Linked DNA regions of Homo sapiens: region 2 is reported to be linked to region 1. The links are microRNA targets in miRTarBase. Many come from high-throughput screens and were not tested one by one. Region 1 holds a microRNA gene; the other region holds the end of a gene's coding sequence.
Evidence for each region. Region 1 holds the annotated microRNA hsa-miR-302d-5p (ACUUUAACAUGGAGGCACUUGC, at 1,496-1,517, shown strand). A microRNA usually pairs through its seed, bases 2 to 8, with sites in the 3' UTR of a target mRNA and lowers its output. Matches are read on the target gene's strand: a 7mer-m8 pairs with bases 2 to 8, a 7mer-A1 pairs with bases 2 to 7 and ends in A, and an 8mer does both.

Region 2: miRTarBase lists MB21D2 as a target of hsa-miR-302d-5p. Seed matches in the 3' UTR shown: 7mer-A1 at 1,262-1,268 and 7mer-m8 at 1,492-1,498.

Annotation. Positions count from the first base shown.
Region 1 is chr4:112,645,562-112,649,561 of GRCh38, reverse strand. MIR302D (microRNA 302d) reads left to right here and starts at 1,491; the gene lies at 1,491-1,558. It overlaps LARP7 (La ribonucleoprotein 7, transcriptional regulator), which reads right to left. Exons shown (of 13, transcript NM_016648.4): 3 at 3,111-3,211; 4 at 2,891-2,974; 5 at 2,607-2,771; 6 at 2,435-2,528; 7 at 2,013-2,363; 8 at 1,728-1,872; 9 at 1-27. MIR302CHG (miR-302/367 cluster host gene) reads left to right here. Exons shown (of 3, transcript NR_146092.1): 2 at 963-1,049; 3 at 2,594-2,842. MIR367 (microRNA 367) reads left to right here and starts at 1,621; the gene lies at 1,621-1,688. It also overlaps MIR302A, MIR302C and MIR302B. RefSeq lists an enhancer at 1-691.
Region 2 is chr3:192,794,380-192,798,916 of GRCh38, reverse strand. MB21D2 (Mab-21 domain containing 2) reads left to right here. Exons shown (of 2, transcript NM_178496.4): 2 at 1-2,102. The coding sequence ends at 531. Among named protein-coding and RNA genes, the nearest start is that of FGF12, 69 kb to the right of the region's middle.

The sequences.
Region 1 (4,000 bases):
TCTTTTTTCAAATCCATCCATTCGCTCCTACAAGGAAAGAAATGGTGATAACAGATGACTAAATATAAAAAGTAAATAGGGAAATATCTAAATATATACATTCACAATGACTTGGAGCAACTCCTCCACCAACTTTCCTGTTTCTTTAAACACATATTCAAAATATTTCCTAGGTTCTAAAGACATTTAGCAAAATAAGCTAAGGGAGTTCCTCTTCCCCCAATATTCAGATTAAATGTTTTAAGATTGCCAATTAAATTTTTGAGTGTCTGAAGTATTTTAATTTATAAAAGTAAAATTTTAGCATTAATTCCTTAACTAGTAACATTTACTAAATCAGTCATCTCTGTGGGAAAAGGGCGAGATTAAAGATTTGTTAAACTGCTTCCAATTTGAGAGATAACATTCCTTAGTATTTACTTGAATCAAAAAGAATTTCTAAGTAGAACAAAACACCCCGTGGAAGCAATCTATTTATTTACATACATTTAACATGTAGATGCTTCTTCAAACAGAGTTCCTCCAGATAGAAACACAATGCCTTTCTCGGCTCAGTGGGAGCACTCATTGTTACCCTAATCTATGCCATCAAACAAGCAGATAGGAGATTTTCTTTTTCTTTTTCTTTTTTTTTTTTAAGAGGAAGATATCTTGTGGTAATGGTTTTAGCTGTTAACATTGACATCTGTATACTTCAAAAAAAAAAAAAAGGATCCAGACCCACCCAGGATCATACATTCCCTGAGAGCTGATACATTAAAATAACAAAAGGCCCTTGTAATGATTCTCTGAGATAAAAAGGCAAAAGGAATTCAAGAGTTAAGAATAGTATAAATAGAAGTGGCTGAAGTCCCTGCCTTTTACCCTTCTGGAGGAGAACACGAATCTTTGGGAACTAGTTCAGGAAGGTAAAAAAATTTTTTTCTTCTAAAGTTATGCCATTTTGTTTTCTTTCTCCTCAGCTCTAAATACTCTGAAGTCCAAAGAAGTTGTATGTTGGGTGGGCTCCCTTCAACTTTAACATGGAAGTGCTTTCTGTGACTTTAAAAGTAAGTGCTTCCATGTTTTAGTAGGAGTGAATCCAATTTACTTCTCCAAAATAGAACACGCTAACCTCATTTGAAGGGATCCCCTTTGCTTTAACATGGGGGTACCTGCTGTGTGAAACAAAAGTAAGTGCTTCCATGTTTCAGTGGAGGTGTCTCCAAGCCAGCACACCTTTTGTTACAAAATTTTTTTGTTATTGTGTTTTAAGGTTACTAAGCTTGTTACAGGTTAAAGGATTCTAACTTTTTCCAAGACTGGGCTCCCCACCACTTAAACGTGGATGTACTTGCTTTGAAACTAAAGAAGTAAGTGCTTCCATGTTTTGGTGATGGTAAGTCTTCCTTTTACATTTTTATTATTTTTTTAGAAAATAACTTTATTGTATTGACCGCAGCTCATATATTTAAGCTTTATTTTGTATTTTTACATCTGTTAAGGGGCCCCCTCTACTTTAACATGGAGGCACTTGCTGTGACATGACAAAAATAAGTGCTTCCATGTTTGAGTGTGGTGGTTCCTACCTAATCAGCAATTGCGTTAACGCCCACACTGTGTGCAGTTCTTGGCTACAGGCCATTACTGTTGCTAATATGCAACTCTGTTGAATATAAATTGGAATTGCACTTTAGCAATGGTGATGGATTGTTAAGCCAATGACAGAATTTAAACCACAGACTTACTTTGATAGCACTCTTAATGGTATAACTTCTTCTCCCATTTTATGTCTCTCTTTATGTTTTTTCTTATGTTTCCTTTTTGTTTTCAAGAGAGAGCTATCTTTTAGATCTCCAGTATCCTTTTCCTCTTCAGTAGAGATTTCTATATCTTGAAATAAATAAAAAAGCTCTCCGTTAAGACATGGGGCTGTGAAATGGGTGAAACAGAAGCCAATTAAAACCTAATTAATTAAAAACTAATTAATTAAAATTAATTAGTTTTATCTAATTAAAACCTTGTAGTTTTACCTCTATTTTCCTTGGAAGCTTCTGATGCTTCCTTAATGATGTCTTTCTGAATAATTTTCTTTACTTTTGATCGGGGAGCTAGGGATTCTGCATCTTCAGAGCTGCTTCTCTTCCTCTTCCCTGTTCTGACTTCAGGTAAGCTAGATGCTTCAACTCTGTCCCGTTTTTTCTTTTTCTTTGAGCACTGCTTTTGGGGTTCAGTGGACTCAATGTCAGAGCCCTCAGATGTGGGTCTGGATCTTTTCATTTTACTGATGCTGGTGTTGCTTGTGTCCATGTTTTCTTCTTTGGCTTGGATATTGTCTTCCTTTTTCATTCGGCCTTTCTTCTTCTTTTTCTTTTTCTTCTCTTCTGTAAAAGTGCCATCATTATTAGTTCATCTTACTTCAACTACACCTATTTAAATATTGAAAAATACTCACCCACAACTCTTAAGGCTGGAATGGGCTTATTTTTCACTGTTTTAGGAAATATGCCAGGTTTTCTTGGTGCTTCTTCTGGTGGGTTGTTAAGAAACTGAAATGATTGCAAAAGTTACTATTTTAATACTTGTTTTCTTTTCTTTCTTTTTTTTTTTTTAGGATCTGGACTTACCTCAATTGCTTTTGCTGCTTGTTCTTTTGTTTCAAATTCCACAAACGCAAATCCCTTTGGATCTCCAGTAGACTTATAATGTGGTATACTTATATAAACAACATTGCCACATTTCCCAAATACTCTTTCAATCCAGCTGTGATTAACATTTTTGGGAAGTAACTCCTATTATAAATTAAAAGCAATATTAGAGTTTTTCACAATCAGAATGTCAATAAATTTTTAACTTAATTATATTGTTTCTGTGCCAGTTTCTGACTGGGGACCCGGGTTCTTAAGCTTACCACATACACTGTGCGTTCATCCTCATCCTTTGGTCTTTCCCCCAGAGGTTTTTTCCTCCGGATTCTGGTGCCTTCCAAATCAAGCTTTAAAATAGTATATTACATTAATAAAACTAATATTATTTATAATTGTAAGCTATAATCATATAATAATCATTACGTTAACATTCTTTATAATTATAAACTATAAATATAAACAGTAGTTATTCTTGATTCTTACCTCTACAACAGCTGAACTTCTCAATGCTCTGGCAATTAACTTCCCATCAGTAGTCAATTTTTTCATTTTGTTAAAAGACACAAGTAGTGATATATCAACATCTAAAGAAAATGAAAAAGTTAATATGTTAGTGTATCAGCAGGATTAATTCAATTTGGTACAATTTAACCTGCCCCTCAGGCCCTCAGGCTCGGTGGCTCATGCCTGTAATCCTAGTACTTTGGGAGGCCAAGGCGGGTGGATGGGGGAGTTCAAGACCAGCCTGGCCAACATAGTGAAACCCCATCTCTACTAAAAATACAAAGAATTAGCTGGGTGTAGTGGTGCACGCCTGTAATCCCAGCTACTCGAGAGTGAGGTAGGAGAATCGCTTGAACCCAGGAGGCAGAGGTTGCAGTGAGCTGAGATCACTCCAGCCTGGGAGAAAGAGACTCAAACAAAACAAACAAAAAAAAACTGTATGAGGGTCTAAATGGCATTGCATATTTGGCGACCTAAAATGACACATTTTAGTGTATGTAACTGCAGATTAAGATTTGAACACAAATTATTAGCAATACCCAGACATTCAAAGAGGACATCTGGATCCCATCCTATTAGAAACAAGCACAAGGTTGGCTATTTGAAATTTAGCAACTGGGGATGGTGGCTCAATGCTTCTTATCTCAGCAATTCAGGGGTGAAGGTAAATCTCTTGAGCTCAGGAGCTCAAGACCAGCCTGGGCAACATGGTGGGACCCCATATCTCTTAAAAATGCCAGAAAAAAAAGCCGGCCTGGTGATGCTTGCCTGTGTTCTCAGCTACTGGGGAGGCTGATGGAGGATCGCTTGGGTGGGGCTGAGGGGGTGGAGGTGGGGGCAGAAGTTGGAGTGAGCAGACATGGAGCCAG
Region 2 (4,537 bases), not on the chromosome of region 1:
ATCATCATTAAACTGCTGTCCCGGCCCAAGGCTATTAGCCCCTATCACCTGCGGAGCATGATGCTCTGGGCCTGCGACAGACTTCCTGCCAACTACTTGGCTCAAGAAGACTATGCAGCCCACTTTTTGCTGGGCCTCATCGATGACCTGCAACACTGTCTGGTCAACAAGATGTGCCCCAATTATTTCATCCCTCAGTGCAACATGCTGGAACATCTGTCTGAGGAGACAGTCATGCTTCACGCCCGGAAGCTGTCCTCTGTGCGCTCAGACCCGGCAGAGCACTTGCGCACCGCCATTGAGCATGTCAAGGCAGCCAACCGGCTGACACTGGAGCTCCAGAGGCGAGGTAGCACCACCAGCATCCCCTCTCCACAGTCTGACGGAGGGGACCCCAACCAGCCTGATGACCGTTTGGCAAAAAAACTGCAGCAGCTAGTGACTGAGAACCCGGGAAAGTCAATCTCTGTCTTTATCAATCCTGACGATGTCACAAGGCCCCATTTCAGAATTGATGACAAATTTTTCTGAGTGTTAGCTGACTTTTTTTTTTCCTGATTCTTAAACTCTGATAATGTGTCGTGTGGTTTGTGATGCTATCTTTCTGTTTTTTACATATCCAGCCTAGATTGGATTTGTTAAGAACAAATTTTAAGTTTCCTGGTTCTGCAGGATGGTGCAGGCTCTGAAACAGTATATTACTATTTCATATTCTGCCTCTGATTTCGTTGTTTACTTTTTGTAGTTATTGTCATGCTCTTTAGTTTGTTGGAGTTTTTTTTCTTTTTAAGGAGATCTTAAGCCATAGATGAAAATGCCCATGAATCCTCTTGCTTTTTTCTGTTTCATACTTGGTGCAAATTTGTTCATGGGTATGGGGAAACAAATCTCTTTCTGATGCTTAACGATTCTATCCTATTATTTTTATTATTTTGTTTTTGTCTTTTTTCTTATGAGCTTTCACCACTACTGATATTTGAGAATCATATGAACCTGGGAACTACTTGGCATGTTAGCTGGATTTATTTATTTTGGCCAGTGACCAGAGTAGTTTCCCCCCTTTTCCACCAAACAATGTAAACTTTGAAAGTGATAATACTACAAATTGTGTTTTGGAGCAACTTCATTGAATGTAATTGTCCTCAAATCAGAGAACACTGGGTGGTTTGAAGGGTGTCTTTGACAGTTTTCCAAGCAGAATTAAGGTTTCCAAATGTTAATTTTAGCATATGTAATTATTTGAAGCCTTATTTAAATCCTATTAAAGAACATACCATTATAATTATTATTTGCACTAATCTTTGCCATTGTCAGAATTGCAAAGTGTGTTTCAATATAAATTAACAACCACTCTCGAAATTCTATCATTTTTTCATTTTGCCCATTTCTATCAGTGAAATGATTCTTTGCATTTGCTTAGTTCTCCTTCAGTTGTGGGGTCCTGCTTTGCCCTCTTTGATATTCCTGGTTCCTGTCTTACTGAGAGAAGTTGTTAAAGCTTTATACATGTTGACCCCATCTAAAGCTGGGGAAAATATACACTTGATGAAGTAGGTGTCTTTGTATTTATTTCTTTTGGGGTCATAGAGGTAAGCTTTTTTGTAAAATCTCTACTCTTCCTGAGAGTTTTGAGAAAAACTGGCAGGAAGAACTTATAATCCCCAAATAGAAGATACCACGTCTGTTCAAAAGCAGGTATTGCTATAGAGCAGCACCCAGGAAATATCTGTGGGTGGCAGCCTTGGTATAGAGGTGTCCTGTCTTCATGAGTGAAGTTACTTGCCTGATTAGGTGCTGGAAGGTATTGGCTCCCTGTTTTGGTGTGGACTCATGGCAAGCTGGTGTTTAAGAGGTCAGGAGGCCTGCTGATCTTTCAAAGGACACCCATGATGTCTACTCATAGAAAGGGCAAGTAACGTGTTCATTTTGGTCTTGAATGTCCAAACTCAAGGGTTGGATTTTGGCCAATTGAAATCAGACATATGCGATCTTGGGTTTTTGCATGGAAATTAATGTAATGCTTATAAATGAAAAATGAAAACATTTCAACCATCTAAGTCAAACACAAAAATAATAAAAAAAGAAACATACTGGCCTTGAAATTTTGTTGTTGTTTGTAATCTGGGAATTATTTTCTTATTAGTATTATATTAGTATATTTATATATTAGTATATTTTCTTATTAGTATTATACTAACAGCAATTTTCAATAAATACAGCCATGGGCTTGCTAGTGTCTTTCGGACCAGTTGTCCATATAGTGAACAACCAACATTCAGTCTTCCTCTTTCCCCAGTTTTACTACTAATGTCTATCCGCCACATCATCCTTGTCCTTCTCAGGAAATGATTTCATCCCTAGTGCTGAAAACGCGTCATAATTGGAAAAGCTGATCTGCACAAACCATCTCCCTGGCCACAACATTAACAAGCGACACAGAATGTAAGCCGCTCCAGTCAGGGACACGCTCAGCGTTCCAAACTGGAATGCTGGGACAGAAACATACACTCTCCCTGGATATGGAGGAGAAAGCATTTGGATTCTTTTGCTACTGACAACTATCACACGATCTTTATTTATTTGTGTATTTATTTTTAATACACTTTAAGTTCTGGGTTACATGTGCAGAACGTGCAGTTTTGTTACATAGGTATATACGTGCCCTGGGTGATGTGCTGCACTCATCAACCCGTCACTAATGCTATCCCTCCCCCAGCCCCCTACCCCCCGACAGGCCCCGATGCGTGATGCTCCCCTCCCTGTGTCCGTGTGTTCTCATTGTTCAACTCCCACTTAAGAGTGAGAACATGTGGCGTTTGGTTTTCTGATCTTGTATCACGCAATCTTGACTAGAGCTAGCTTTAGGATGAAGCTGACGTTGGATGGCGTTATGGGAGCTGGGAATTAAAACATGACCTACCACACCCGCCACATCTGAGATCTCCACTAGACTTTCTAGTTAAATGAGTCAACACTTGGGTTATTTTAGCCAGTTTGAATTTGGCTCATCAAAATATTTAAACTGGTATACCAAACTACTTCAGTATATTTAAACTATTGCCGTTGTTGTGTGCCTCTTTTCTTTCTCGGGACAGATATCAGGGTTACCGTGTATTTTATCTAAGAGCTGGTTTATGCTATCTGATTTGATTCAAAAAAAATAGCCTCTATAATAATTATGCTTCTACTAAAGCCTGTTAAAAATGTATGATACTTTGACCATTACATTACACTTTGTAGATTAAAATAGTTGTAAACCATCAAAGTAGCAAGCATATTACAACAGCTGTTTCTTTAAGCTATAAACGACCATAACTATTCTCTGAACTAGTGTCTCAAATACACTTAGCAATATTTGCAATATTTTACGTGCCATGTTTTCAGACAAAACTCCATTACAGGCATAAAAAGAAACTAGTTTCAAAGATCCTCTTGGCCCTGTTTTTGTTTTGTTTTTTGTTTTGTTTTGTTTTTGCCACTTCTAGTCCTAGTGAAGATCACTCTACAAATTCTTGGTTAAACGTCTCGAAAAAGGTCCAGAGGCCTCTGGGCTCTAGTAATTTTAAAATCCTTTAAAAAATTCCTGGAATTTCCTATTGGTACTATAACCTCGGACTTTTGGCTCAGATGCTGAGAGGGCTAGAAATGGGATGTAGTCCAATACCTTTTCTTATCTGAAATTTAAGCAAATCATTGAGTTACTAACCAGTCTGTCCTCCTGAAGTTCAGAAGATCGGTTAAAATCACTTCTGTTTCAAGCACAGAATACAATGCCTTAAGGCTGGAGTCATAATTTTAACATTATTCATGGCTGACTTTTTGATCGGGGGGTATTTACAAGCTATTACTCAACGGGCCTTCAGTTCTCTAATGAGGCTGGTTTCACCTATTTTGAGAGTAGGTTATTCTCTGTCCCCTGGCTTTCTCTTCTGAAATGGAAGATCCAAAGATGCCAGTAAAGGTTGGTTTAGAAGTGGGTGGAGCCAGGACCAGACATTTAAAAAATATTTCTGAAAGTACTATACAGAATTATTTCAGAGAAAATGAGAGGCAGGCATATGTAGCTAATCTTACTTCTGGGTGGAGAGGTGGGAAAAGTGGAAAGGACGTTAGGAGCTCCTAGTCACTTGTGTACCACAGGCACACGCACATACATGAGTGTGAGCACACACACATATTTTTATATCACCAACTGGAGGTTTCTTTGGGGTGACTTTTATAATGCACTTCCTTGGAGAATTAAGCCCCCTGGTCATAACTAATCGTTGGTGGTTTGGAATCAGATCACTGCCTCACCAAGAGGAATTTTCTGAGTTGGAGTTCAGCCTTTGCTGGTAATGCTGGGAAGGAACAGGAGGCGTGTTGAGCAGCGGTGTTGGTCTCCCAGGGTCTGGGGGCTTCCTGTGGCTTCAAAGCTCAGCAGTGGTCTTTAGAGAAGGTGCCTCAAGTTCCATCCCGGTAAGCTCTCTCCAGAACCTTTCTCTGAGTCACTGAAGGGGCTGTTGGTATGACTGTTTCAGGTAGGAATCTGGGAAAG